2 separate regions of the Homo sapiens genome follow, and region 1 is linked to region 2. Evidence: fine-mapped expression QTL. Tissue or cell type: whole blood. Region 2 holds a variant in brackets; the other region holds the start of a gene. All regions are shown on one strand. Distances are from middle to middle.

Region 1 (14,794 bases), 23 kb after region 2:
AGTGAGGAGCCCCTTTGCCCGGCCACCACCCCGTCTGGGAGGTGTGCCCAACAGCTCATTGAGAACGGGCCAGGATGACAATGGTGGCTTTGTGGAATAGAAAGGCGGGAAAGGTGGGGAAAAGATTGAGAAATCGGATGGTTGCCGTGTCTGTGTAGAAAGAAGTAGACATGGGAGACTTTTCATTTTGTTCTGCACTAAGAAAAATTCTTCTGCCTTGGGATCCTGTTGATCTGTGACCTTACCCCCAACCCTGTGCTCTCTGAAACATGTGCTGTGTCCACTCAGGGTTAAATGGATTAAGGGCGGTGCAAGATGTGCTTTGTTAAACAGATGCTTGAAGGCAGCATGCTTGTTAAGAGTCATCACCAATCCCTGATCTCAAGTAATCAGGGACACAAACACTGCGGAAGGCCGCAGGGTCCTCTGCCTAGGAAAACCAGAGACCTTTGTTCACTTGTTTATCTGCTGACCTTCCCTCCACTATTGTCCCATGACCCTGCCAAATCCCCCTCTGTGAGAAACACCCAAGAATTATCAATAAAAAAATAAATTAAAAAAAATAAATAAATAAAAATAAACAACCACTGTTCATTATTTCCTGCAATTGTGTGGGCCAGCAGTTTGGGCTATGATCAGCTGGAATGTTTCTCTACTAATAGCAGTCATCAGGCAGCTCGAATGGGGTGGGAGTCTAAAATCGCCTTGTTCACACATTAGGGGTTCTGGCTTCTCTTGGCTGGGCCTCTTCTCCATGTGGTCTCTCACTCAGCAGTCTAGTCTGGACTCCTTACATGATGACGGGAATGTCCCAAAAGAGCTAAGGCAGAAGATGTCTTGAGGCCTAAGTTCCAGAACTCACATATCTACCACATTCTACTGGCCAAAGCAAGTACAAGGCCAGCCCAGATTCAATGGGCGGTAAACAGACTATTTCTTGATGGAAGAAGGTACAAATTATTATTATTATTATACTTTTTTTTTTTTTTGGAGACAGAGTCTCACTCTGTGGCCCAGGCTGGAGAGCAGTGACATGATCTCAGCTCACTGCAACCTCTGCCTCCAGGGTTCAAGCGATTCTCCTGCCTCAGCCTCCTGAGTACCTGGGATTACAGGTGTGTGCTAATTTTTGTATTTTTAGTAGAGATGGGGTTTTGCCACGTTGATGAAGCTGGTCTCGAACTCCTGACCTCAGGTGATCTGCCCACCTCGGCCTCCCAAAATGCTGGGATTACAGGCGTGAGCCACTGCACCCAGATGGTGCAAATTATTATAGTCATGTTTTTCAATCTATTACACTAAGCAGTGATCATGGTGGTTTAAAGGAGTGTAACAGTTGCAGTAGTAGTGGTGAGAAGCAGCTGGATTTTAGACATTTAATGACAGAACAAGCTGATTATCCAGATGGAGAATGACTTTTCAACCCAAGAAGTAGAAGGATACAGCTGTCATTTACTGAGCTATTAGGAGCAGCAGGTTCAAGGGAGAAAAAAAAAGAAAATCAAGAGTTTTGTCTACAATGCCTATTAGATCTCCAAGCAGAGATGTCAAGTAAACAGATTAGAGTCCGGAATTCAGCATACTACTACTTCTCTGCCGGAAAGGGAGCGGGCAGAGAAGCAGCCAGGCTTTTACTTGCATGACTAGGGCATAAGGTTCTTCTGAACAGTCTGACTTGGTTTCTAGGTTGTCCAGCATCTTTCTCTTCCACATTTCTTGTCTTTCAAGAAAGCAGGGAAGCCCCAGAGAAGGTTGAGTTTATGTGGGGAAATAAAACAGATCTTTTTTTTCATTTGATTTTAGGTGGGTTTTTAAATATATATATTTACAGAGCTCTCTCAGACCAGTATGCTATCTGGTAACACAGAAAATAATACCAGGACAGATTAACTCACTAGTAGTCATGAGAAAAAAAACTTTTTCTTCAAAAATAACAAAAAGTAAAAGAGAAGGCTAAGGTAACTGCAGAATTCAAATAAACAGGTCTTCTGGCCACTGTATCTTTCAAAGGCAAGTTATCTAGAAAATTACTACACTCTCGCATCTGAAAATAGATGCGAAATGATAAAATTAATAAAAAGGTGGTTTTTTTTTTTTTTGGAGACAGGGTCTCACTCTGTAACTCAGGCTGGAGTGCAGTGGTGTGATCATAGCTCACTGCAGCCTCGAAATCCTGGGCTCAAGTAATCCTCCTGCTTCAGCCTCCCAAGTAGCTGGGACTACAGGTGGGTACCACCATGCCTGGCTAATTTTTTATTTTATTTTTGTAAAGGGTATTGCTATGTTGCCCAAACTGCCCTTGAATTCCTGGCTTCAAGCAATCCTCCCACTTGGGCTTCCCAAAGTACTGAAATTATAGGCATGAATCACCATGCCTGGCCAAAAGTTTTTTGTTTTTAATTCTAATTCACATTTAACTTTTCCTATAAGTATGCCAACCACTGAGGATAAGATTTAGGGAAATAGGTTTTTTAAACCATGTCGGCATAATTTCAAAGAATCACTGTTTCATAACCCAAAACAAAGACTGTATGTAGGACCAATAAGCCATTTCACGTAGCCTTTACCACTAAAGATTGTGAAATACATGTTTTGTAACTATAATTAGTATTATTATTCTAGATGTTTGTGTGTCCTAACATTCAAACACGATTCAAGTGAGTTTACAAGAGTATGATTCAATTCAATTCAAGTTATATTAATTTAAAGTCTACTAGCACTAGGCTCTAATGGATACAAGAACAAACAGGACCCAATTATACTATAAGTCTTGTAAGCAGGATTATTCAGGTACATAAATAAATATAAGAAAGTGCATACTTTTAATTTATATTCTAATTCAATGTACAAATGATGTGAGGAGGCTTACTAGAAATATATTCCTAAATAAAACTGTGAATATGTTTTGAAAACAGAAAAATACAAATTAGGATGTGAAGTGAAGAGTAGGGGAGAAATACTGATACATAATACACAGATGAACCTCAAAAACATTATGCTATGCAAAATACACCTGACAAAAAAGACCACTTATTGGCCGGGCACGGTGGCTCAAACCTGAAACCCCAGCACTTTGGGAGGCTGAGGCAGGTGGATCACCTGAGGTCAGGAGTTCAAGACTAGCCTGGCCAACATGGTGAAACCCTGTCTCTACTAAAAATACAAAAAAAAATTAGCAGGGCATGGCGGCACACACCTGTAGTCCCAACTACTTGAGAGGCTGAGGCAGGAGAATCGTTTGAACTCAGGAGGCGGAGGTTGCAATGAGCCGAGATCACACTATTGCACTCCACCCTGGGCAACAAGAGTGAAGTTCCATCTCCAAAAAAAAAACAAAAAAACACTTATTGTATGATTCCATTTATTTTTTTCCCTTTTTAAATTTTTCTTGGTTTTTATGCTAATCTTCTCTGTACTCTTCCAATTTTAGTATATGTGTTGCAAGCATGTATTATTCCAGTTATATGGGATGTTCAGAAAAGGCATTTGGAGACAACATGGATTAGTGGTTGCCTTGGGCTGGGGGTGGGAAGAAGGATTAACTGTAAATGGGCATGAGGGATCTTAATGTGCGACAGAAATTTTCAAAAAACGGATTGTTGTGATGACTGCAAAACTTGGCAAATTTACTAAAAATAACTGCATTGTACATCTTAAATTAGTGAATTTTATGACATGCAAACTATGTCTCGATCAAGTTGTCTTTAAAAACTAAAGGCAAAATTAAAACTTTTACAAACATACAAAAACTGAAATGATTCAGTCCAGCTGACTTGCACTACAATAAACGTTAAAAGAGGCCCTTCAGGCAGAAGGAAATGACACTAGATGGATTTACAAAAAGGAATGAAGAGAACTAGAAATGGTAACTATAGGAATAAATACATATATTTTGGGTTTTTTAAACCTAAATCTTTAAAAACTATTAATATAATCAACTGTTTAAACATAGTAGCAATACAGTGTGAGGTTTACAACATATAAAATGCACCATAATAGCATAAAGGCCAAGATGGAAGAGATAGAAGTATACTTTTATAAGGTATTATATATGAAACAGTACGTAACTTGAAGGTAGACTGTGATAACTCAAAGACACATGTTATAAGCCCTAAAGCAATCAATAAAGTAACAAAAAGAATTACTAGTAATATGCCAATAAGGAGATAGAATCATTTTTAAAAATCAAAATTAAAAAAATTGTAAAGATCAATTAATTCAAAAGAAGGTCAAAGAAGGAGAAAATGGAACAAAGAAGAGGACAGACAATAAAACAAAAGAGCAAATGATAGACTTAAGCCTATATCAATAATCACATTAAATGTAGATGGTCAAAACCCCCTATTAAAAGGCAGAGATTTTCAGGTTGGATTTTAAAAGACCCAAATATATGCTCTTTACGAGAATTACAATTTAAATATAAGACACATACACATTAAAAGGACAGAGAAAGATACATCATGCTCACAATAATTAAAAGAAAGATTAGTGCCCATGTTAATATCTGCCAAAGCAGATTTCAGAGTAAACAATATCACCAGGGGTAATAAAGTCACTTCATAATGTTAAGTGAGCCAACTGGTCAATAGGATATTGCAATCCTAAATGTTTTATGCACCTAATTACACAGATGTAAAATACGAGGCAAAAACTGATAGAACTACAAGGAGAAATAAATCACAATTATAGTTATACCTCTCTTAATAACTGAGAGAACAAACAGGAAAGCAAGAAAATAGAGGACTTGAATAACACTACCAACTTGCCTTAACTGACATTTATGGAGCATTATGACATAACAGAATACTCCACCCAGCAACAAACAGCACAATACATTGCTGAGTACAGACATATTTTTCGTAAGCACACATGGAACACAGCTCAGACAGACCACATTCTGGGCTATAAAACAAGCCTGAATACATTTTAAAGGATTTAAGTCATACAAAGTATGTTCTCTGACCACAAGGAAATTTGAAATCAATAACAGAAAGATATCTGGAAAACCCCCAAATAAATGGAAACTAAATCCATGGGGTCAAAGATCAAACCAAAAGTGAAATTAGAAAATAATTTGAATTTTGAAGGGTGGAAGCTGCAGTGAGCCGAGATTGCGCCATTGCACTCCAGCCTGGGCAACAGAGCAAAACTGTCTTAAAACAAAACAAAATAAAAGGATTTGTTTGTTCTTTGGGAAAGGGTCTTGCTCTGTAACCCAGGCTGGAGTGCAATGGCACAATCATGGCTCAACGCAGCCTTGAACTCCTGGGCTCATGGTATTCTCCCGTCTCAGCCTCCTGAGTAGGCTGGACTTCAGACACAAGCCACCATGCCCATCTAATTTTTTGTATTTTTTGTAGAGATGGAGTTTTGGCAGGCATGGTGGCTCACACCCGTAATCCCAGCACTTTGGGAGGCCGAGGTGGGTGGATCGCTTGAGGTCAGGAGTTGAAGACCACCCTGGCCAACATGGCAAAACCCCATCTCTACTAAAAATACAAAAATTAGCCGGGCGTGGTGGCACATGCCTATAATCCCAGCTACTCAAGAGGCTGAGGCAGGAGAATTGCTTGAACCCAGGAGGAGGAGGTTGCAGTGAGCCAAGATCGCCACATTGCACTGAAGCTTGGGCAACAAAATGAGACTCCATCTCAAAACAAAAACAAAAACAAAAACAAACAAACAAAAAGATGAGGTTTCATCAAGCCTCCCAAAGTGCTGGTAGTACAGAGGTGAGCCACTGTGCCCAGCCCAAGAAAATAATTTGAATTGAATGACAACCACAACACAACATATCAAAATTGATAGAATAAAACTAAAGCAGTATTTGGAGGTAAATTTATAGGACTACCTACCTAAGAAAGGGCTCAAATCAATGACCTTGGTTTCCACATTAATCTAGAAAAAGAGCATATTAAACCCAAAGTAAAAGAAAGGAAATAGTAAAGATCAGACAGGAAAACAACAAAACAGAAAAGAGAAAAATCAATGAAATAGAAAACTGGTTCTTTCAATATCAATAAAATACTTCAGAATCAACAGTGTCAAGCTAGCATGTACAATGATAGTGCTTAAGTTATTTATCTTAATCTGCCTCTAAATTTGAAGAAGTTATGCAGGAGACACAAGTAAATATTTAATACAGACTCAAAGGTTAGAGTCCACTCCACAAATTTGTCTGAAAAAAATATAAAAGGTATACCTGTCCTTGAACAAACAACATAGCTCTTTTGTTTGTTTGTTTGTTGGTTTGTTGGTTCGTTTTTGAGACAGAGTCTCGCTCTGTCGCCCAGGCTGGAGTGCAGGGGTGCAATCTCTGCTCACTGCAAGCTCCGCCTCCCAGGTTCATGCCATTCTCCTGCCTCAGCCTCCCGAGTAGCTGGGACTACAGGCACCCGCCACCACACTCGGCTAATTTTTTGTATTTTTAGAGAGATGGGGTTTCACCGTGTTAGCCAGGATGGTTTCGATCTCCTGACCTCGTGATCCGCCTGCCTTGGCCTCCCAAAGCGCTGGGATTACAGGTGTGAGCCACCACGCCTGGCCAACATAGCTCTTTTGAGCAATAGTTTCATCAGAAGTAAAGGGACTGAATGAGATTATCTTTAAAATCTCTTTAAGTTCTAAGATTCTCTACATGCCAAAGAAGAGGTACACATCCACTAACAAGATGACCTGAACAACAAGATATTCTGATAAAACCTTGGGAACCAGAATTAGCACTTGCCTCAAAAATAACCACCTTGACCAAAGAGAAGAAGTTATTCAATCCATTCGTACTTTAAATATCAACCCTGGGGAAAAAAAATCATACGAGAATTTCAGTCTAATTTAAAATCAAGGACCAATATTACTAATTACTTAATCTTCGCTTCTCAGCTTATCACTCCTGTGAGATGGCCGTTTTACATGCATTACCCTCTTCCTCAATTTTGTCCTCAGTATTACTCCCAGTGAAGTGGTGTGTGTGTGTGTGTGTGTGTGTGTGTGTGTGTGTGTGTCTAATTACACAATTAGCAAGTTACAGAGGGTAAGATGGAATGAGGGCCTCTTGGTAATCAACAATTTGTTCAACTTACAGCCAACTGTGGGCCAGGTATTTTTATTGTCTGAGATATTTAGGAATCTTCTGCAGCTGCCTTTTAGGAGAAAAGTACTTTATATAAATATATCATATACAGGACTGAAATCTGCCCTGAGTGTCCAGATCTGGACACCAAATAGATTAGTCATTAATTGTATAGTGGTTAACAGCATGGGCTTTGGAGCCAAACCCCTTGAATTCCAATTCTTACCATGCTACTTACTGGCTCTATAACCGTGGACAAATTACTTAACCTTATGGGGATCATTATTAAGATTAAATGAATTAATACATACATGTAAAGATATAATTATGATCTTCTCCTCCTAGTTTGATAAAGAATACCAGAATCTAAGAATATCCTATAGGCCGGGCACAATGCCTCATGCCTGTAATCCCAGCACTTTGGGAGGCCAAGGTGGGTGGATTGCCTGAGGTCAGGAGTTTGAGACCAGCCTGACCAACAAGGTGAAACCCCCGTCTCTACTAAAAATACAAAAAAAATTAGCTGGGCATGGTGGCGGGCACCTGTAATCCCAGCTACTTGGGAGGCTGAGGCAGGAGAGTCACTTGAACCCAGGAGGCAGAGGTTGCAGTGAGCCAAGATCGCATCATTGCACTCCAGCCTGGGCAACAAGAGTGAAACTCTGGCTCAAAAAATACATATATAAATAAAAAGAATATCCTATAAAAGTATTAAAACAGCACTTTTAAGTAAAACTCACACTTCCCTCCATTTAAGTCCTCCTATAAAGTAATATATCTATACATATTTCAGTGGGAGGGTCAGTACTTATGAAAACAAATACATACAAGTAGTTTAAAGGATAGTTTTAATATGAGTAAATGCACTTTTATGCTCAACTATTTTATACTCCAGTGACACTGCAGACCTCCCAAATTCTCTCTAGTTAAAATGAGATAACTCAGAAGTTAATACAGCCTCTACATAAGACCTTTCACCACCAAATATTTTAAGATTCTGCCAAGCATCAGGCCATAGTTATAGAATGTTTTAACTTAATGAAATTGTAGGGTATAATCTCTACAGAATGGGCCTCAAGCCTAACTAAGTGATCTCCAAAAATATGCCAACCCCTTTATCCCCCCACACCATTATGGACCAAACAATTACAGTTCCATTGACCCTCATAGCTTACTGAAGTTATATGAAAGAACGGAAAGATGTGGGTCACATTCCAATAATCAATTGTGTGACCTAACCAAAAGGACCTATTCGCTCAGTCTCACGTCCTCCACCTGTAGAGATACCTATGCTGTGACATACTGAAAGAATTAAAGGAGAGGGTGAATGAAATGTCCCCTCTATGCCCACTAGCACATGGCACTTCTCAATTCATGTTCATTTCTCCTTCTTTATTTGAAGTGGTGAAAGAAATCAGAAGCAATTTAAGACTTTTCACAGCACTGTTTGATCTCATTTCTTAATATTTTTGACAAAAACCATCTACAGGTTAAGCTGTGGAATCTCAACATAAATGCACATTTTTAGTGTTCCTTCAGCTTTACTTCAAAACCACTACGGGAATTAAAATACGGTAGGAATAATCTTCTGACAGAATAGGAATGACATAACTTTTAGAATAAATGCCCACTTCAGAGTAAATAAGAAGATAAAGGAGGTATCATCATAAGTTGATGAGAATCCTATGATCACTACCACTTTCTGGAAGTAGCTCCCAGAAATATTAAAATCTAGTAATTTTAATTGACTCAAACATCATTTTTAGTAAACATTCTGGTATCCAAAAGCATGAGACTAAACAATGATATTGAAAAGATTAATATTATTTGGAAATGTATTCCACAACTAATTTATTCTGGGCCTACCTGCAGGGATAGTCGTCCCAAAATTAAACGTTCTATAGGTACAAAGTAATTTTAAAACTGGATGTTTTAATTTCAAAACTTATAAATTTTCTGAGCCAAAGCATTCTCTTCCATGTATAGAACTAGGGTTTTAACCAAATACTTGGTTGAAAGCTGTACAAATCCAAACATAATTGAAGTCTTGATTCTGCCACTTTCAAGAGTGGGTGGTACAGATTCTTCTCATTCATAACATTAGTTTCTAGCTGATGTGGTTCGTTATTCAAAGAACACTTAACAGTCCTTCATAAAATGGTAGATTCAGTCTAAGGACTAAGAGTAGAACATTCTGGAATAACAATAACGTTTACAAACACCACTTACCATTTGGTCCTAGGTTTTCATAAAAAATTGATATAGGCAGCAGATGTATACAGAACACCCTAGTTGAGGCCAGTTTAAGTGTAAAATACCCACATACTCAAAGCCTAAGAACAATTTACTTAAGACAAAACAATGTTGGAGAAATTGCCCAATATCACAAATGTAGCAGTCACCCCTAAACAGTGTTTTTGATTAATGACAACCAATTTCCTTCAATCTTAAAGGCAACCAATTCAAGCCAGTAGGTTAAATCCTTGAAGTATACTGCAATGCTACTCCTTTTTTCCAGGGAATCAGATGAGAATTTTGTGCTAAGAACTTATCAGGAAAATGGAAGTAACGAAAATTAACACGCCAAAATATGAGTATAAGAAATATAAGCCTCCTTAATAATCAGCCAAGAAAAAAATAATCAGGTTATGTCTCCTCCCACCCATTCTTTCTGTCTTAACCTTCTGCAAAAGCCGGCTGGATTCAGAGTAGAAATAAACGAATTTTACAATGAGTCGAGTACCACCAAAAATCAAAAGTGGGAGCTTACTCGTCCTCCAGGTCTGACCCGCCTCCAGCCCGAGGCCACCAAAAGACACACCTCCCTTCCCCCAACCCGCCACAGCCGGCTCTACAGGTAACAGGCGTTTCTTCTCGCGCAGTTTGAACAAAAACAATCCAGAAGGAACAGATTTGGTTTTTTAAAAAAAATGAACAAAAGCCAAAAAAGCCACAAACACAACCTAAACCTTCTAAGAAGCTCGACTACTCCCGTTCTGCACGTTCCTTCCCAGAAGGATGCAGACCCCCGGTGTCGGCGGGAACCAGGAAGCTCTTGGGGCCTCCCTGGGCCAGACCTGCACCCGGGAAGCCGCCGCAAGGCTTCAGGAGCCCCAGGTCGCCCCAAGGCCGCGCCGCAGGATTGAACAAAGCGGCGGGTGCAGCAACCTCGGCGCTTCCGAGCGCGTTCGGGGCCGGACGCCCGGCGTCCGGCGCTGGCTCCAGAAAGGCGGCGGGTGTGGGGCGCAGAGGCCTATCTCGCGCCCTAGCCGCGGCCCGCGCCCCGCCGCAGTCCCCGGGGACGGTACTCACACACGCAGAGCTCCACCACGTACGCGTAGTAGGACCAGACGACCACGAAGGTGATGAAGAGCACCGGCACCCAGCCCACGACGCGCTGGCAGCAGCGCCACAGCGTCCAGGGCGCCATGTTCCGCTGGCGGCTGCCGAGCCCCGCGTCCCACCGTTCTGGGGAGCGCGGGAGCCCCGGCGACGGTGACTCGGACGCTCCAGGCGGCTGCTGGTCCAGCTCCCCCGCCTCCGAGGCAGGACTTGTGGGAGCAAAAGTCCGAGGCGCCGCCGGGACTCCTCCCGTCCCGGCGCCCAGCCAGGCCCCGCCCCCACCCCACATCCCGTCGCCCCCCTCCCCCCGCGTCCGTCCCCGCCAGCCCGCCCGCCGCGGGCCGCGGGCCGCCCCCGGTCTCCGCGTCGTTGGGGCGGGGTTTCCGCGGCCGGGGAGGCGGTGAGGGGGCGGGGCCGCAGCTCGGGACCGCCCATGGGGCGTGGCGGGGCTGGATGCGGACAGGCTGGGCGGACGCGGGAGGCCGGGGAAGGAGAGGCGAAAAACACGCCCTTGATGGATGAGAGGGACAGGGGATAGCTTTTGTGGATCGAGACTCAATAGGGGAGGGAGACTATGGAAATGATTCCTTAGCTGATTTGTGGATCTTGGCCCTCTCTGTGTACAGAACTCGCTCCACTGGGGTTCCTGGGACATTGAGTAGTTGGGGCACTGTTTCAAACATGACAAGGCCATTCCCCACTCAGTGTGCGAAGAATGCACATTGTTAGAAGGCTCCTCCTGTGATTTTTATGTTCGTCCATCTTGGCGGAACCCCTCCCTTTCTTGAAGATGGAACGGTAGATACCTGTAATTTCGGGTAGAAGCCATGTAGGGTCCATCAGTTTGATTCGTAACCCAAATTTAAGATTGAGTAGCGAGAAGGAAAGGGCATGTAAATGACCCTCTCCTTGCCCCGCAAACGACTAAGGAAATTTAAAGAATTTATTTACAACTAGAGGTTGCTAAGCAATGACGATAATCATATAGAACCCAGAAGCATCACTGTGAAGACTTCACAATGCAAGGTCAGACGCATTAGAAGGGATTCCAGACCGCAATCTTCATACCAGTTCCTGCTACTAGCATTCAGTTTTGGTTAGAATGAATTTTTGTGTTTGTTTTTTGAAACAGGGTCTTCTCGCTCTGTCGCCCAAGCTGGAGTGCAGTGGCACGACCTGGGCTCATTTAAGCCTCGACCTCCCTGCTAAAGCACTCCTCCTGCTTCAGCCTGCAGAGTAGCAGGGACTACAGGCCCGCCACCATGCCCAGCTGATGTTTGTATTTTCTGTAAAAACTAGGTTTCGCCCTGTTGCCATGCTGGCCCTGAACTCCAAGGCTCAAGGAATCCCAACCCCTCTCCGCCTCCACCTCCCAAAGAAGTGCTGAGATTACAGGTGTGAGCCACCACGACCGGCCTACACTGAGCTTTAAATTAGCTACTGCTCACTAAAGTCTCCATGAAGAAGACGTCACCCTTTGCTGTGTCAGAGAAATGTAGTAAAAGCGAGTAAGTATTTAATCACTGCACACTGCTGCTTGAGTAATAAAGCATGTATAAAAGATTCTGTTCTCCCTGATTTTGTGCCTTAAAAGTCATATTAGTTAGTGGCCTAGTTGACAGTAGGTTTAGGTTCAAGTTCAACTAGTTTTCCAGAGAGGCTGCTTAGGAGGGTTAGACCTCAACATAGAATTCGGATGGACATGGAAGAACATAAAGCCGTTTCTCCTCTATGTCATCTCTACGTACCAAAACCATGCTGCTAGAGCTCAGCACAAAGCCATGTCCTTTACAAGCTCCAGGGCTGCTAGAAATGATCTTTCACGACATTTTGTTTATAACCTAACTATAAAACTGTCACATTCGTTTCCTAGGGTGACTATAACAAAGTACCACAAAACTGGGGAATAATAGAAATTGGTTGTCTCACAGTTTAGGAGGGTAGGTGTCCCAAATCAAAGTGTTGGCAAGGATATTGGATATGGTTTGGATGTTTGTCCCCTCCAAATCCCATGTTGAAATGTGATCCCAGTGTTGGAGGTGGGACCTGGTGGGAGGTATTGGATCATTAGGGTGGATCCCTCATGAATGGTTTAGTGCCATCCCCTTGGATGAGGGGTTCTTTCTCTAGTAGTTCACATGAGATCTGGTTATTTAAAAGAGCCTGATCCTTCCCCCACTCTCTCTCTTGCCCCCTCTCTTGCCATGTGACATGCTGGCTCCCCTTTGCCTTCTGCCGAGAAGGCAGAAGTCTATCTCTGTGGTCCTGTGTCTTCAGAGATAAGGATGTTCCTTTGTCTGGGTAGAGGGAGGGCACCTCTTGAATAACAGTCTTAGGTCTGCCTTCAGGGGAAGGCCTGAGACGCTTTTGCTAGTGCTATGGCCTGCTTCAGGGGAGAAGAGCGAGAGGAAGGTGAGAGGGACCTTCCTGTTGCTGTTGTCTCCAATGTTGTCTCCAACTGATGATTGGAAGCTTCTTGAGGCCTCACCAGAAGCATATGCTGACCCCATACTTTCTGTACAGCCTGGAGAGCTGTGGGCCAATTAATCCACTTTTCTTTATAAATTACCCAGTCTCAGGTATTCCTTTATATCAGTGCAAGAATGACCTAACACAGCCATGTGCCCTCTGAAACTTGTAGGGGAGAATTCTTCTTTGCTTCTTCCTAGCCTTTGGTGGTGACCATTAGTCCATGGCATCCCTTGACCTGCAGTGGCAGTGGCATCACCCCAATATCTACCGCTATCCTCAGGTGGCATTCTCCTTTCCTGTCTCTCCCCTTATATTGGGTTAAGGGCCTACCCTACTCTAGTATGGCCTCATCTTAACTAATTACATCTACAACAGGCCCACTTCCAAATAAGGCCACATTCTTTTTTTTTTTTTTTTCAGTAGAGTCTTGCTCTGTCACCCAGGTTGGAGTGCGGTCACGTGATCTTGGCTCACTGCAACCTCCACCTCCCAGCTTCAAGTGATTCTCATGCCTCAGCCTCCCGAGTAGCTGGGATTACAGGCGTGCACCACCACGTGAGGCCTGCATTTTGTATTTTTGCTAGAGATGGGGTTTCCCCATGTTGGCCAGGCTGGTCTCAAACTTTTGGAGTCAAGTGATTTGCCTGCCTCGGCCTTCCAAAGTGCTGGGATTACAGGCCTAAGCCACCTCGCTCAGCCAATAGTTTTGATACTCATTGAAATATGTGATCTTGCCTACTACCTTGTAAGGTTCTAGAAGGTAGAAAGTATTTCTTGCACATCCACAGTGACTTGCAGTAGGAAATATTTAGTAAGAAATTGTTGAACAAATATTTAAAGTTTTCTATTGTTATCCAGTTACTCCTCCTAACTTCTGGCGTTGCCAACCAGATTACATTAGCTTGTGATTTCTTTTTTTTCTTTTTCTTTTTTTTTTTTTTGAGACAGAGTCTTGCTGTGTTGCCAGGCTGGAGTGCAGTGGTGCAATCTCAGCTCCCTGCAACCTCCGACTCCCTGGTTCAAGCGATTCTCCTGCCTCAGCCTCCCCAGTAGCTGGGATTACAGGCACACACAACCACGCCCAGCTAATTTTTTGTATTTTTTGTGAGCCACCGTGCCCGACCAGTTTCTGATTTCTAAATGACTGCCACATATTCTAAGGTGATTTATGTGGGATCTAGAGAATATTTCTGATCTATGTCCTTGTACAATGAGGACAGACACATTTTTGAGGAGGCAATATTTTTATTATTTTGGACTCTTTCTGTCGTAAATGGTTACAGACATGAATTAATGTTCTTTGCTTGTGAGCAATAGAAGCCAGTATCTTAAACCCCTTCCTTCCATTTCCATGTTGGGCTTGTGATTTCACTCCATCTTTGCTACTGGTTTTGACAACAGGGAATCATTTAAAGACTTTAGGCAGTGTAGTGACGTGAGCAGAATTACATTTTATAACAATCACTCTGGCTGTGGTAAGAAGAACAGATTGGAGGGAGGAAAGTCTAGAGGCAAGGAAACCAGTTGGGAGGCCGTTGCAGTCGTAGAGCAAGAGATGATGCTAGCCTGACCTTGATTTGTGGCAGTGGAGAAGGTAATAAGAAAGCTACTTAGGGCTGGGTGCGATGGCTCACGCCTGTGGGCCCAGCACTTTGGGAGGCCACAGTGGGCAGATCACCAGGTCAGGAATTTGAGACCAGCCTGTCCAACATGGTAAAACCCCATCTCTACTAAAAATACAAAAAAAAAAAAAAAAAATTAGCTGGGCATGGTGGCGGGGCGCCTGTAATCCCAGCTGCTCCGTAGGCTGAGGCAGGAGAATTGCTTGAGCCTGGGAGGTGGAAGTTGCAGTGAGCTGGGATCACGCCATTGCACTCCAACCTGGGCAACAGAGCAAGACTCTCTCCAAAA
Region 2 (17,372 bases):
AACAATGCTTTTCACTAAATTCAAATTAATGTGATTATCAATAGGCAAACTTCTGGTTACATATACATGCTATTAAACCATTGGTTACAAGTAATATAGGAAGTAAAATCATAGTTAACTGAGAAAATTAAATCAAAGTTGAAAGAAAAACCTGAAACCTATATACCAAACTCTGTGTTCAGAAGTTCAAAAATCACCCGTAACTGAATTTAAAAACAAACAAGCTAACAACAACAAAAGACTGTATTGAAAGACTCTTTGGCCAGGCAACGTGGCTCACGCCTATAATCCCAGCACCTTGGAAGGCAGAGGCAGGCGAATCACGAGGTCAGGAGATCGAGACCATCCTGACTAACACAGTAAAACCCCGTCTCTACTAAAAAAATACAAAAAATTAGCCAGGCGTGGTGGCAGGTGCCTGTAGTCCCAGCTACTCAGGAGGCTGAGGCAGGAGAATGGCGTGAACCTGGGAGGCGGAGCTTGCAGTGAGCCTAGATTGCGCCACTGCACTCCAGCCTGGGCAACAGAGCGAGACTCTGTCTCAAAAAAAAAAAAAAGACTCTGAGAGACACGGTAAAAATAGCCCCAAGAGATAATGATTTAAGTTAAAAGTTCTTTTATAAGAACTTCTGAAATTCTTTGCTTTCTGTATCTGTGCTTCCAACATACAGGAAACATTTTTGATTTAAAGAAAGAAAATAAGCCAACCAAGATTGAGTCTGCGTTTATTCTGTTACTGACAAATTAAATTTAAAGGTAATTTAATATTTACATACTTAATGCCTAATTGTCTCCAGTAAGAGGAATTACTATTTATTAATAATTTCTAACTGTTCAAGTATTTTAGAAATCCTCTGGAGTTTTGTATGCCCAATTAAATTTTGTTTAAATTTAATCTCAACAGACTTATGAAATTTGCTTTTATCCCAGTGAAATTTTGAGAGATGATTTTTCCCTCTGGGCACTATCTTTTTTACTTAGTTGTTATAAAAACTTTAGCTTCCTTAAACTGGTAATGCAATTTACAAATTTACAGTCTGGTTATTTTCTTAAATATCTGTGCATTGTAAATTGCGATTTTAACAAATGCCTAAACGAGAACCATCAATAAAATTTAGACATCATGAAAGCAGAATTGTCTCCTCAACCTAGCTAGAACTCATATTAAAAAAATCTAAATAAAAAGTTTTGAAGAACATATGAGACAAATATTTATATAAATACACAAAGAAGTTTGAGTACTAGGTGTTGTACAAAATAATGTCTACTTTAATTTACATAAATAACACAAAATGAGAATACATGAAATGTCTTGGTCTGGAAATAACCCCATTACTAGATCTCCTTTTAATTACTTAAAATGTAAAGATAGGGATTTTATTTCTAAAAAACAAAAACACATGCATTCATCACTAAATAAAAAGTATGTTCCAATTAAAATATCATTAAGCATTTAACTTAAATTGAAACTAAAAGTGCCTTACCATTTTCTTCATTTCCAAAAATAGTAACTAGAATAGAAGAAAAAATAGTGAATAAATATACTTTAAACATTTTGTATGTAAGTTTTATTTCAGGTTGAATATTCATCTTAATATCATTTTCAAAAAAATAAACTTTAGTTATAAATTGTAGACACTAATGCAAAGTCAAAATTGCACTTAAAAAACTCCAAAACCATTAAAATACTAAAATCCAAATTCTTTATCATTAACGCTACAGTCACACTAAATGTTTTCAGAACTTTATTAATTTTAAGTGTATCAACATGTTTATAGCTGCAATGTTTTCTTTAGCTCTTTCCTTAATGATATCTGCAGAATGAACAGAACTGTCCTCTATGACCCCCATAACTTATTTGTTAGTCTGTGATGTACTCTTATCAACCTCTTTGTGAATCTATACTCAAGACAAATGTATTTTTCTAAAGAAAAAAGTAGAGGAACTTACCCTGCTAATTTTTAGTGTTTTTTTCCTCTGAATAATCAAATACTGAAGAAGTCAGACTACGCACAGAAAAGGTAATTCAGTGTCTACCTCTCTTATGTTTTCTTCCACCTTGTATTACTATTGTGATGAATAAAGCCAACAACCACTTCAGTCTACCAAGCCTGAAACCCTGTGAACTGCTATTTACTCTTTCTTCCTGGATAATTCAATGGCCTCGAGTCCTGTTGGTTCTACTATCTAAGTCTCTTTATAATATGTCACCTATTCTTCAGTCCCTCCCCACTGTCTTCCTCAAATGCAACAGCTTAAGGCATCTTCCTGCAGTCAGTGTAACACACCACCACCACTAGCAAATCTGATGAATACTCTTCAATACCTGTGAGTCACTTTCAGAATGAAGTCCAAAATCTTCAGGGTAGCAAACACTACAAGCCCTCTGTAATCTACAATCTGTCTACCTCTCTGGTTTCTTCCTTTTTTTCTCCTTTTCTTTTTTTTTTTTTTTTGAGACAGGGTCTAGCTCTGTTGCCCAGCCTGGAGTGCAGTGGCACAATCTTGGCTCACTGCAACCTCCACCTCCCAGGTTCAAGTGATTCTCCTGCCTCAGCTTCCCGAGTAGCTGGGATTACAGGTGAGTGCCACCACGCCTGGCTAATTTTTGTTATTTTTAGTAGAGATGGGTTTTCACCATGTTGGCCAGGCTGGTCTCGAACTCCTGACTTCAAGTGAATCCGCCCACCTCAGCCTCCCAAAGTGTTGGAATTACAGGCATGAGCCACCGCGCCAGGCCCTCTCTAGTTTCTTCTGTCATTTGCCCATATTTCTGGTGTAATTATTCTAAACAAATTGTGGTTTCCCAAATGCATCAAGCTGTTTCATATGTGCCATGTACCTTGTCTATTCACCCTTCAAGGCCCGTTTTGAATACTCCTCTGTAAAGTCTTCCTGAGTCCCTCTTTAGCCAGAGTAGATCACTCCTTTATATCACCACTGATCACTCTTCCATCTTTACCACACCATCTCATTTTTCTTTTTTTCTTTTTATTTTTTCAATTACTTGTCAATATGTCTGTCTCACCTTACTGGAATAAATGCTCCTTGAAGTGTGGAATCATGTCTTAGAATAGTAACAACCCTGCAAGTTATCATTAGCTCCATTTTACAGATAAGTAAACTAAGGCTCAAAATAATTAAATGACCTTCCTAAGGTCACAGAGCTAGTATATGTAGTATAGATGGGATTTGAACTAAAAGTCTGTTCAGACTACTGGTAAGGATGAAAACTTGATAATATACTGTGTTATCACCCTCCTCCAAGTAGAAAATCTGAATTTAAAATAACATCTAGCTAATAGTTTCCAGCGGTTGTCTCTTTCAGCTTCTCACCAAGATATTCAGGGAACAATAAAACTGCTTCATATAAAAACAAAGCTAGGCCGGGCACGGTGGCTCACGCCTGTAATCTCAGCACTTTGGGAGGCTGAGATGGGTGGATCACTTGAGGTCAGGAATTCGAGACCAGCCTGACCAACATGGTGAAACCCCGTCTGCACTAAAAAATGCAAAAATTAGCCAGGCATGGTGGCATGCACCTATAGTCCCACATACTCGGGAGGCTGAGGCAGGAGAATCACTTGAACCCAGGGGGCAGAGGTTGCAGTGAGCCAAGACTGCACCACTGCACTCCAGCCTGGACAACAGAACTAGACTCTGTTTCAAAAAAAAAAAAAAAAAAAAACCAAACCAACAATGGCTAGAATCACTTCTTCACAGAGGACTTTCCTGACCACAGAATGGGTTAAATAAATCTCGGTATATATTCCTACAACACTTTATACTTTCCCTTTCATAACACCCCTGACACTTGTAATTACTGGTTTACAGTTCATAGTTCCTCCTAGGTTTTTTTCCTGGAGGTAGAGGACATGACTTTTTCACCAGCATCTGAAACAGTGTACGGCATGGAACACACTCTTAATATTTGCTAATGGCACCTCTAACTACAGAGACAAAGACATGGCTGGGAACAGCAATCTGCAGAACCTCTCTCAGTGAGACGAGGCTATTCCTTTTTATGGGGATCCCAAAATATATTTTTCTTTTTTGTTTTGTTTTGTTTTTGAGACAGAGTTTTGTTCTGTCACCCAGGCTGGAGTAAAGTGGCGTGATCTTGGCTCACTGCAACCTCCACCCTCCAGGTTCAAGCAATTCTCCTGCCTCAACCTCCCGAGTAGCTGGGATTACAGGTGCACGCCACCATGCCTGGCTAATTTTTGTATTTTTAGTAGAGACGGGGTTTCACCATGTTGGCCAGAATGGTCTTGATCTCCTGACCTCGTGATCCACCTGCCTTGGACTCCTGAAGTGCTGGGATTACAGGCGTGAGCCACCGCACCCAGGCCCAAACTATGTTTTTTAAAAATTCTTTTGATGACAAAACCAAGCTTATAAAAACTATTAGGACTGGGCGTGGTGGCTCATGCCCGTAATCTCAGCACTTTGGGAGGCTGAGGCAGGTGGATCACGAGGTCAGGAGTTCAAGACCAGCCTGGCCAAGATGGTGAAACCCCATCTCTACTAAAAATACAAAAAATTAGCTGGGCATGGTGGCGTGCGCCTGTAGTCCCAGCTACTCAGGAGGATGAGGCAGGAGAATCGCCTGAACCTGGGAGGCGGTTGCAGTGAGGCAAGATCACACCACTGCACTCCAGCCTGGGTGAAAGAGTGACACTCTGCCTCAAAAACAAAACAAAATAAAACAAAACAAAAGAACAAAACAACAACAAAAAAACCCAACAACAACAAAAATTATTAGGCACACTAAATGTTTATACATTTTTTTATGTAAGAAATGTCATTTTTCAATCTTGTCAATGACACTAACCTCATTTAGAGACAACATTAATTTATGGTTCTTTGTGAACATGAGGGCTGGCTATGTCCTATTCTTCACTTCATTGCCCCCTTTTCTTGCCTGTCTCCCACTTATTGAGCCTGAAAATATCAGATACTCACTTTATCAGTATACTTGTATCTACTATGGCTATGGGATCCAGTTCTTGCAAATGGATACATCTTGAGGGAGGGAAAAACTGTCACTGGGAAAAAATTTTTTTGCCCTCCTTAACAAGTGAGAAGCACGTGAGAAAGAAGCTCTATTATTTCCTTTATCCTGTTTTTGCTTTGAATTCTTATAATGTGAGGATGTGCTATCTGAATGTACAACTGTCAACTTTCAACCTTGATGGGCCAGTTATATGCTGGATATAGAATTCTGGGTTGACAGTTCTTTTCATTCAGTACTTTAAATATGTACTACTTCCTTCTAAATTCCACGGTTTCTGATGACAAATCTGCTGTTATTCTGTTTTTCCCCTATAGGTAAAGTGTCCTCACTGTTTTCAAGATTTTATATTTAGTGGTCAGAAATTTGGTTATAATGTATGTTGGAGTGGATTTCTTTGGGATTTTCCTGTTCAGAGTTTGCTGAACTTCTTAAGTTCTTCTTGAATATGTCCTTCGCCAAGTTTGAAAATTTTAAGCTATCATTTCTTTGAATACCTTTTCAACCATATCGTCTTTCTTCTCCCCTGGGACTCTGATGGTACAAATATTAGAACTTTTAAAAATAGTCCCACAAGTCCCTGATGATTTGTTCATTTTTATTTTTCAGTATATTTTCTCTCTTTTGTTCAGATTGGGTAATTTCTAATGTTTTATCTTCAAGTTCATTCACTTCACTTTTTTTCTCTGCCCTCTCCATTCTGCTGTTCAGTTGACTTTTTAAAATTTTGGCTATTGTATTTTCAGTTTAAAAATCTCCATCTGGTTCTTTACATCTTCTATTTCTTTGTTGAGAATTCTATTTTTTCATAATTCAATAGCAAATTGAATCACTTTAAAGATAGCTGCATTAAAGTCCTTGTCAAGTAATTCCAACATCTGTGTCTTTTTGGTTTTAGTATCTATTCTCTTTTCTCATTTAGTTTTCCTGGTTCTTGGTAGGATGGATGGTTTTCAATTGTATCCTGAAATGTTTTAGTATTATGCTGAGACTCTAGATCTTATTTAAATTTGTTTTTGCAGGCCTCGTCTGACTCCGTGCAGTGAGAGATGTGGGAGCACCACCTTGTTGCCATCAGGTGGGAGTCCAAGTCCCAGCTCCCTGCTAGGCTTCTGCACACATATCTTGGCTGGGAAGGGTAGAGGTGCCTCCTTAGTGCTTCCCAGATAGCCTCCATTGACACCATGAGAGGGAACTTGTTACTGTTTGGGGTGGGGGGATGGAAGGGACACATCATTACTGCCCAGTGGGAATGAAAATCTAGGCTCCTGACTAGGGCTTCACCTTTTCTGATACTATCCCAGCAGGAATACTGGGGAAGAGACACAGGAGGGGGGTCTTGTTACAGCTGGGCAAGCAGGAGAGGTCTTAAGCTCAATACTCAGTCTTTGCTGGTGAGAGTGGGGGATGGAGCACAGTTTGTCTATTGTTTTTGGCTAGAGTAGGGCAGTTATTGTCTACAAGTTTTCTGTCTTACTAGGTTGTCCCTTTCCTGGCTTGACTAATAAAACTGGTCTTTTCTAGGGTTTGTTTTGGTCTGTATTCATTGGTGTTTCCAGGTTGACAGCTTCTCTAGCACATATATGAAGAAAAAAAAAATCTAGGGAACACACCACCATGTTATTCCTCAGGTCGCAAGGTCCCTAGCTGATCTGGCTTCTTCTTGATACCTTTCAGAGTCTCCTCAGGTTTGTTTTCTGCACACTTTCCATGGATTTTAGCTGTACTTACTAAGAAAAGGAAGAAGTCTCTATTTCATCTTGTCTCAGAACTGGAAGTCCCTGCTTGTCCTTTTACTGCCGAATAGCATTCTGTTATATGGAGGTATGACAACTTTATCCATTAATCAGTTCATAGGCATTTGAGTGATTTCACCTTTTTGTCTATTATGATTACTCGTGTATTCACCAAGCCTTTGGGTGGACATAATATTTTTGTATTAGTCCATTTTCACGCTGGTGATAAAGACATACCCAAGACTAGGAAGAAAAAGAGGTTTAATTGGACTCACAGTTCCACATGGCTGGGGAGGCCTCAGAATTATGGCTGGAGGCAAAAAGGCACTTTTTACACAGTGGAGGCAAGAGAAAATGAGGATGCAAAAGCAGAAACCCCTGATAAAACCATCAGATCTCTCTTGAGACTCATTCACTACCACGAGAACAGTATGGGGGAAACCACCCCCATGATTCAAATTATATCCCACTGGGTCCCTCCCACAACACAGGGGAAATTACAGGAGTACAACTGAAGATGAGATATGGATGGGGACACAGCCAAACAATATCAATTTTCATTACTTAATATCTAAAAATGGGATTGCTGGGTCTAATGTTAAATATGTGCTTAACTTTACCAGTAACAGCCAAACTGTTTTCAAAGTGGCTGTATTTGGCACAAAGTGTTTGGCACTTCCACTTACAATGGATCAGAGTTATAGTTGCTCCACATCCTCACCAATACTTAGAATTGACAGTTTTTAAAATTTAGCTGTTCTAAAAAATATGCAGTGGTATCTTCATTTCACTTTTGTGTTTTTCTAATAACTACAGCATCTTTTCATGTGTTTAACAATCACTATCCCTTATTTGTGAAGTTATATGTTCAATGGTGCCCCTCTTTTAACTGTATTGCTTATTGAGTCATGAGTTCTTCATATATTCTGGATACAAATCTTGATATGTGTGTGCCAATATTTTCTCCTAGGCCATAACTTGCCTCTTTATATTTTTAACAGTGTCTTTTGAAGAGCACAAACTCTTAATTTTGATGAAGTCTTAATTTAATTTATCAATTTTTTTCTTTTATCATTCATGCCTGGGAAATCTTTGCCAACCTATGAAAGTCACAGTTTCTCATATGTTTTCTTCTGGAAGTTTTATAGGTTTTATATTTAGGTCTGTAATATATTTCATTTTCATTTTATATCATTTCATATTTTTTATTATTTTTGAGACAGAGTCTTGCTCTCATTTTATTTCATATTTTATTTTATTATTTTTCAGACAGAATCTCGCTCTGTCGCCCAGGCTGGAGTGCAGTGGTGCGATTTCAGCTCACTAAAACCTCCGCTTCCTGGTTCAAGCCATTTTCCTGCCTCAGCCTCCCAAGTAGCTGGGACTAAAGGCATGCACCACAGTGTCCCACTAATTTTTTTTTTTTTTTTGAGACAGAGTCTCGCTCTGTAGCCCAGGCTGGTGTGCAGTGGCGTGATCTCGGCTCACTACAAGCTCTGCCTCCTGGGTTCACACCATTCTCCTGCCTCAGCCTCCTGAGTAGCTGGGACT[G/A]CAGGCGCCCACCACCATGCCTGACTAATTTTTTTTGTGTTTTTTAGTAGAGATGGGGTTTCACCATGTTAGCCAAGGTGGTCTGGATCTCCTGACCTCGTGATCCACCTGCCTCGGCCTCCCAAAGTGCTGGGATTACAGGCATGAGACATCTCTCCTGGACAACTTTTTTGTATTTTTAATAAAGATAGGGTTTCACCATGTTGGCCAGGCTTGTCTTGAACTCCTGACCTCAACTGATCCGCCTACCATGGCCTCCCAAAGTGCTGGGATTACAGGTGTGACCCACCATGCCCCCCCATGTAATCCATTTTAAAAAGTTGATACTTTGTATATGGTACAGGTAAAGGTTGAGGTTAATTTTTTTACATATGAATGGTGAATAGTTCTTACAGTGTTAGTTGAAATAACTATTTGTTCTTCATTAAATTAACCTGGAATTTTCTTATGGGAATCAACTGACTATACGTGTAAGGGTTTATTTCTGAACTCTATTTTGTTCCACTGGTCTATATGTCCATTCTTACTCAGATACTACAGTCTTGATTACATATAGCTTTCAGTAAATCTTGAAATCAGATAGTATGGGTCCTCCAACTTATTATTTTTCAAAAGTATTTTGGCTATTTTAGGTTTGCATTTCCATATAAATACTTACTTATTTTTACCTTTTTTAGAGACAGGATTTTGCTGTATTGCCCAGGCTTGTCTCAAACTCCTGGGCTCAAGCAGTCTGTCTGTCTCAGCCTCCCAAGTAGCTAGGACTATAGGCCTCCTGAGTAGCTAGACAGCTTGCATGCCATTGTGTCTGGCCCATGTAAATTTTAAACTCATCTTATTGATTTCCTTAAAAAAATACTCAAACAAGGCCAGGCATGGTGGCTCATGCCTGTAATCCCAGCACTTTGGGAGGCTGAGGCGGGCGGATCATGAGGTCAGGAGATCGAGACCATCCTGGCTAACACAGTAAAACTCCATCTCTACTAAAAATACAAAAAATTAGCCGGGCGTGGTGGCGGGTGCCTGTAGTCCCAGCTACTCAGGAGGGTGAGGTAGGAGAATGGCGTGAACCCAGAAGGCGGAGCTTGCAGTGAGCCGAGATCACTCCACTGCACTCCAGCCTGGGTGACAGAGCAAGACTCCATCTGGTGGGGGTGGGAGGCGGGAATTCACAAACAAAAATCTGCCTGGTTTTGTTTTTTGTTTGTTTGTTCTGGGAGATCCAGTGCTGGCTGATGCCTGGATTTTGACTGGCTGAACTTACAGATCAACTTGGGGAGAAGTAATGTCTTTGAAATATTGTCTTACAGCCCATGACCATGGCGTAGCTCTCCATTTTAGATTTTCTCTATCACACAGAATCTTGCACATATTTTATTAGACTTATCCCTAAAATATTTCATGTTTTTGATGCTATTATAAACAGCATTTCTAAAAATTCCAATTTTAATTACTCATTGCTATAGAATAGTATTTAGAAATATGTTTTAGTTTTTTTATTGACCTTGTATGCTGGCTCAATTCACTTTTCGGTTCTAGTAGCTTGTTTGCAGTTTCTTTGGGATTTTCTACATAAATGACTAGTCTGGTAATCAACAGGGTTTGTTTTCCTTTCCTACGTGTGTGTGTGTGTGTGTCTGTGTGTCTGTGTGTGTGCGTGCACACCATTTTAAAAGGAAGATTAAATACCTGATAAGTTGATACCGATATTTCCAATTAAAATTAAAGTCTACAGGGTTTTTACTTAACATCTTCTATCTCACATTTGTATCTCCTTTTTCCATTGAGAATTCTGGTTCTCAAGGACACAAGGGATGAAGAATTAGAATACCCCATATTGCTTACCCAATAATCTCGAGATAATGACAATAACACTGCCAGTAATATGATTACTTAAAAGTTTGAATAATTTTTTCATATATTCTCTCTCCATTCTCTAGTAGTTGTGCTGAATCAAAATTGTTAAAGCATATAGTATCCATTACAAACATTATTCCTCATTTAGTCTTAGTCTTGGGTCCACAAGAAAATAAATATTTAATGTTCATATTAGAGTTTAATTTGTATCTCTGCAGTCAATTTGGTTGTCTGAAGCTCATTGTCATTCTCTAGCAAACTAGTTTTGCTACAGATACTGTTCATGTTCTGTTTTTATGCAGTGATTTGGAGTGACTCAAAAATAATGTACTATTACCACCATCTTCCCTAAATCCATATGATGATGACTTTTTGAAAAGATCAGGCCAGATGTCTTGTGAAATGTCCTACAAATTCTAGAAATCGCTACCCATTAGCACACAGAGACATCCTTTTTTTTTTTTTAAAGCATTGCACAATATTCCGTTGTGTGGATATTCCAGTTATACAATCAGCCTTCTATTGATGGGCATCTGTGTTGTCGCCAATCCTTTGCCACTACAATGTTGCAATAAATAACCTTGTGCATGTGTTGTTTATTTGTGGAAGTTTATCTTCAGTGTAGATTCCTAACAGTGGGATTACTGAACCAAAAGTAAATCTGTCCACCATGTCTTTAGCTTTTTGCAAAAACCCTTTTATACGGGTTGTACCATTTTATACTTCTACCAGCAATGAATGAAACTGACTGTTTCTCTGCAGTCTACTCAATGAAGTTTTCAATCTTTTGGTATGGCAGGATAATTTTACCTCGTATTTATCTTATAAGTGAGGGTCAGTATCTTTTCTTATGCTTATGTGTCATTTTCATTTTTTTTTTCCTGTGAAACATCTGCTTACTTTTTTGTTTGTTTGTTTTTTCTATTGTGCTTGGTGATTCTGAGATGTTAGAGGCTTTCCTCATTGCCTTAAGATCATCCACCCATATTTTCTTCTAATGCTTGAATGTTTCCATTTTTTATATTCATTCTTGGTCCCTGTTGAAATGACCAATTCCAGGGGCAGGAAAAGTATCAAACAATGCTGAAATATATTGCCAGAAAGAAAGGAAGTACTAAAAAAACAATAAGGACACATCAAAGCACACAGAAACAAGATGGAAACTGGCTCCTACTGGCCAAATCTGGGACAAATTGAACAATAAAATACGTGTTAGATTATAATTCACAAAATAGAATTTGCCGGTGCATGCTGATATATGTGAGTGAATCAATAAATAAGTAAATGGGAGAAGGATAATCTCTTCCATACAGTAGAATTCTAACTAGTAAATGTAGAAGAAATCATGGAATTAGAAAACCACCATTTGGCAACCAGGACAGTAATAACTGTTTCAAGCAAGAATTCTCAATAGATGCTAAAAGGAGTAAGTGAAAGTAATAACAAACAGATTATTCACAGGGTTTCAAAATGTCTCCCAATAAGAAATGACTCAGGTTGGGTTCTCTGGAATCAGATGCTAAGACAGAGTTTGGGGTGCAATGTATTTACTAGGGACCAGCATATGTGAAAGGAAGGGGGAAGAGGTATAATTGGGCTAAGGGAGCAATCTCACTGCAATATAGTCCTGGCTTCAGCAACCGGCAGGGAGCTCTGAAGTGGGCAGTTCCACCCCATCTCACTCAGGCATTGTGTGCAAGCTGCACCAGGAAGGGTGTGACCTTGGGTGATATGAGTCATGCAGAAAGTGCTGGAAGCTATCTGCTGACTGCACTGACCAAAACTGAGCAACAAGTCCTTCCTCAAAAAGGAATCCGTGTGATGTGGTGGTCTAATAGAATATTAATTACAAAGAAAAACTGTACCTTTATAGAATGGAGAAACATAGCACACACTACCTTGGGTGTTGATCAACATTAATGGTCCCCAAAATGTTATAATGACACAGCATTACTTCTGTGACATTCTTGCTGAAAATACATATAGGCACATCTCATAAGGTGCTTTGATTTATTGTGCTTTGCAGACATTATGTTTTTTACAAATCGAAGGTTGTGGCAACCCTGCATTAAGCAAGTCTATCTGTGCTATTTTTCCAACACTTTGTGCTCACTTTGTGTCTCCGTGTCACATTTTGGTTAATTCTCACAGTATTTCAACCTTTTTCATTATCATAATATCTGCTCTGGTGCTCTGTGATCAGTGATCTGTGACGTTACTATTGTAATTGTTTTGGAGTACCACCAACTGCATCCATATACGATGGAAAACTTAATAAATGTGGTGTTTCTACCACTCCACTGACCAGACATTCCTCTATCTCTCTCCGTCTCCTTGGGCCTCCCTATTTCCGGAGACACAACAATACTGCAATCAAGCCAATTAATAATCCTACAATGGCCTCTAAGTGTTCAGGTGAAAGGAAGAGTCACACACCTGTCACTTTAGATCAACAGCTAGAAATGACTAAGCTTAGTGAGAAAGACATGTTAAAAACCAAGACAGGATAAACGCTAGGCCTCTTGGGCCAAAGTTAGCCAAGTTGTGAATGCCAAGGAAAAGTTCTTGAAGAAAATTAAAAGTACTACTCCAGTGGAGTGGCACTAACTTTGGCCCACGTTGTGTACGTGTACCCTAGAACTTAAAGTATAATAAAAAAAATTAATTTTAAAAAAAGTACTACTCCAGTGAATAGATGAATAAGAAAGTGCAATGAGGCTGATACAAAAAAAGTTTGAGTTTTCTAGACAGAGAGCCAAACCAGCCACAAACATTCCCTTAAGCCAAAGCCTAACTCAGAGCAAAGTCCTAACTCTCTTTAATTTTGTGAAGGCTGAGAGAGATGAGAAAGCTGCAGGAAAAAAGTCTTAAGCTAGCAGAAGTTGATTTATGAGGTTTAAGGAAATAAGCCATCTCCATAACACAAAAGTACAGGACGAAGCAGCAAGTTTTTATGTAAAAGCTGCAGCAAGTTATTCAGAAGATCTAGCTGAGATAATTGATGAAGGTAGCTATATTAGTCCATTTTCACACTGTGAAATTTGGGTGGGGACACAGAGCCACGCCATATCAGTGGCTACACTAAATAACAGATGCTCGCTGCAGATGAAACAGTCTTTTATTGGAAGAAGAGGTCACCTAGAACTTTCCTAGCCAGAGAGAGGAAGTCAATGTCCAGCTTCAAAGAATAGGGAGACTCTTCTCAGGAGCCAATGTAGCTGGGGACTTTAAGTTGAAGCCAATGCTCATTTACCGTTCCAAAAACCCTAGGGCTCTGAAGAATTATGCTAAATCCACTCTGCCTATGCTCTAGAAATGGAACAACAAAACCTGGGTGACAGCACATCTGTTTACAGTATGCTTTACTGAATTTTTTTTTTTTTTGAGATGGAGTCTCACACTGTCGCCCAGGCTGGAGTGCAGTGGCACAATCTCAGCTCACTGCCACCTCCACCTCCCGGGTTCACGCCATTCTCCTGCCTCAGCCTCCTAAGTAGGTAGGACTACAGGCGCCCGCCACCACGCCTGGCTAATTTTTTGTATTTTTAGTAGAGATGGGGTTTCACCATGTTAGCCAGGATGGTCTCGATCTCCTGACCTCGTGATCTGCCCGCCTCGGCCTCCCAAAATTCTGGGATTACAGGCGTGAGCCACCGCACCCAGCGGCTTTATTGAATATTTTAAGCCCACTGTTGAGACCTACTGCTCAGAAAAAAGATTCCTTTCAAAATATTACTGCTCATTGAAAATGCACTTTGAAACCCAAGGACTCTGATGGAGATGTACAAGGAGATTCATGTTGTTTTTATGCCTGCTAACACATCTATTCTGCAGCCCATGGATCAAGGAGTCATTTCAACTTTCAAGCCTTATTATTTATTTAAGAAATACATTTCATAAGGCTATCGATGCCACAGTGATTCCTCTGATGGATCTAGGCAAACTACATTGATCACCTTCTGGAAAGGATTCATCATTTCTAGATGCCATTAAGAACACTCGTTTTTCATGGGAGGAGGTCAAAATATCAACATTAACAGGACTACAGAAGAAGCTGATTCCAGTCCAAGATCATGGATGACACTAAACAGTTCAAGACTTCAGTGGAGGAAGGGACTGCAGATGTGGTGAAAACAGCAAGAGAAGTAGAATAAGAAACAGAGCCTGAAGATGTGATGGAATTGCTGCAACCTCATGATAAAACTTGAACAGACGAGGAGTTGCTTTGTATGGAAGAGAAAAGAAAATGGTTTTTTTGACATGGCATCTATACCTGGTGAAGATACTGTGAACACTGATGAAATGACAAAAACCATTTAGAATATTACATAAACTTAGTTGATAAAGTATCAGCAGGGTTTGAGAGGACTGATACCAATTTCTGAAAGAAGTTCTACTGTGAGTAAAATGCTGTCAAACAGCATCACATGCTACAGAAAAATATTGTGAAAGGAAGAGTCAACAGATGCGGCAAACTTCGTTCTTGTCGTTTTGAGAAATTGCCACAGCTACCCCAGCCTTCAGCAACAACCTCCCTGATCAGTCAGCAGCCATCATCATCGAGGCAAGACCTTTCACCAGCAAAAAGATCAAGACTTGCTGAAGGCTTAGGTGACTGCTAATTGCTAGCATTTTTTTAGCAAAAAGTATTTTTTAAAGACACAATGCTATTGCACACTTAACAGACTACAGTATAGGGTGAACGTAACTTTTATATGCAGTAGGAAACCAAAAACTTGTATGACTTGCTTTATTTTGATATTTGCTTTATTGTGGTGGTATGAAATCAAACCTGCAATTTTCCCACCAAGGTATGCCTGCAATTCTCTGAATCTAATCATGAGGAAAGATCAAATAAACCTAAATTGAGGAACATTTACAAAATAAACCTTGGCCGAGTGCAGTGGCTCACGCCTGTAATCCCAACACGTAAGGAGGCTGAGGCAAGAGGATCGCTTGAGCCCAGGAACTTGAGACCAGTTTGGGCAACATAGTGGGACCCTGTTTCTACAAAAATTTCAAATATTAGCCAGGCATGGTGGCATATGCCTGTGGTCTCAGCTACTAAAGAGGCTGAGGCAGGAGGATTGCCTGAGCCCAGGAGGTCTAGGCTGCAGTGAGCCACGAACACACCACTGCACTCCAGCCTGCACTCTGCACTGCAACAGAGTGATGACAGAGTGATACCCTGTCTCAAAACAAAACAAAACAAAGTAAAACAAACCTGTACTCTTAAAAAATCATGATTATGAAATAAAGACTGAAGAACTCTTCCAAATATAAGGACACTAAAGAGACATGACATCTGCAATGTGTGATCCTAGACTGAACTGTGGAGCAGAACAAGGAACTGAGTGGACAAATGAAGTCTGAATAGGCCTACAGATTAAAGAGTAGTATTTAATCAATACTAATTTATTGATTTTAATAACTGCACTCTGGTTATATAATATTCTAATTCCCAGGCGCGGTGGCTCATGCCTGTAATACCAGCAATATGGGAGGCTGAGGCAGGTGGATCACCTGAGGTCACAAGTTCAAGACCAGCCTGGCCAACATGGTGAAACCCCATCTCTACTAAAAATACAAAAATTAGCCAGGTTTGGTGGCATGCGCCTGTAATCCCAGCTACTCAACAGGCCGAGGCACAAGAATTGCTCAAACCCAGGAGGCAGAGGTTTCAGTGAGCCAAGATCGCGCCATGGCACTCCAGCCTGGGCGACAGAGTAAGACTGTTTCTCAGAAAAAAAAAAAAAAAAAAAAAAAAAAAAAAGACAATGTTCTTGTTCTTAGGAAATAAAGGTAAACATAGGTAAAGGGGCATTAGCTCTACAACTTACTCTCATACATTTCAGAGAGAGAATGAGTGAATGAATGAATGACAAAGCACATATGACAAATAGTAACACTTAGAAAATGTGGGTGAAGGTTATATGACTATTGTTTGTACTGTTTTTCAAAAGTCAAATTATTTTAAAATAAAAAGTTAAAAATTTAAGATACGGCAGGTGCAGTGGCTCAACACCTGTAATCCCAGCACTTTGGGAGGCCGAGGCGGGTGGATCACCTGAGGTCAGGAGTTTGAGACCAGCTTGGCCAACATGGTGAAACCCTGTCTCTACTAAAAATACAAAAATTAGCCAGGTATGGTGGCACACGCCTGTAGTTCCAGCTACTTGGGAGGCTGAGGCACAAGAATCACTTCAATCCGGGAGGCTGAGGTTGCAGTGAGCCGAGATCATGCCATTGCACTCCAGCCTGGGTGACAACAGCAAAACTCTGTCCAAAAACAAACAAACAAAAAGTGTGTGTGTGTGTGTGTGTATATATATATATGACAAAAGAAAGATTTTATCCATTTGTACTTTATACTAAAACATAGCATGAGGTATGGACCTGATTTTACTCTTAGAAAATATGTATCCAATTGTCCCATCTTTTCCTCTGTAATTTGATGTGCTATTTTTACAATATTCTAAATTTCTTTAATTAGTCTATTTCTGGACATTATATACTGTTCCATTAGTCAATACATCTGTCCATGCACCAGACCACACAGTTTAAAAAAAAAAGAGAGAGAGAGACTATTTTTTAGAGTAGTTTTAAGTTCACAGCAAAATTGGGCAGAAAGTAGAAAGTTCCTCATATACTTCCTGCCCCCACAGTTTTAATTATAAGGCTTTTTGGTTTAAAATCTGGGGGATTTCCCCTACTTATTGCTCTTAATTTTTCAGAGATTTCCTGATTGCTTATTCTTTCTTATTTTTCCATAAGACCTCTGGTATCCACTTGTCTAGCACCAGAAACAAAAAAATGTTTACTGGAATTAGAATTCATTTATACATTAATTGGGGGAGAACTGGCATCTTTGTAATGTTGAATTATTCTGTCTATGAACGTAAAGTATGAAATGTCTTTCCATTTGTTCAAGTCACATTTTGGGTCTTTTAAGAATGTTTTCCTCTTGTGAATGTGACATTTTTCTTGTTTTTTTTTCTAAGGTATTTTCTCTTTTTGATGTTACCAGATATGGATAGTTCTCTTCCACTCTATTTTCTTTTCTCTCTTTTTTTTTTTTGAGACGGAGTCTAGCACTGTCGCCCAGGCTGGAGTGCAGTGGCGCGATCTCCACTTACTGCAAGCTCCGCCTCCTGGGTTCACGCCATTCTCTTGACTCAGCCTCCCAAGTAGCTGGGACTACAGGCGCCCGCCAC

What was found.
Region 1: ZDHHC20 starts here. The variant in region 2 is fine-mapped to the expression of ZDHHC20 in whole blood (INTERVAL, PIP above 0.99).

What each region holds. Positions count from the first base shown.
Region 1 is chr13:21,448,673-21,463,466 of GRCh38, forward strand. It overlaps ZDHHC20 (zDHHC palmitoyltransferase 20), which reads right to left and starts at 10,631. Exons shown (of 13, transcript NM_001330059.2): 1 at 10,382-10,631. The coding sequence starts at 10,499. It overlaps LOC124903131 (a long non-coding RNA gene), which reads left to right and starts at 10,875. Exons shown (of 2, transcript XR_007063713.1): 1 at 10,875-11,507; 2 at 11,711-11,974. RefSeq lists a silencer at 10,544-10,923, an enhancer at 10,787-10,956 and a cis regulatory region at 10,872.
Region 2 is chr13:21,424,168-21,441,539 of GRCh38, forward strand. ZDHHC20 (zDHHC palmitoyltransferase 20) reads right to left here. Exons shown (of 13, transcript NM_001330059.2): 2 at 1,485-1,511. Among named protein-coding and RNA genes, the nearest start is that of ZDHHC20, 26 kb to the right of the region's middle. The variant G/A (reference allele first, on the strand shown) is at 8,302.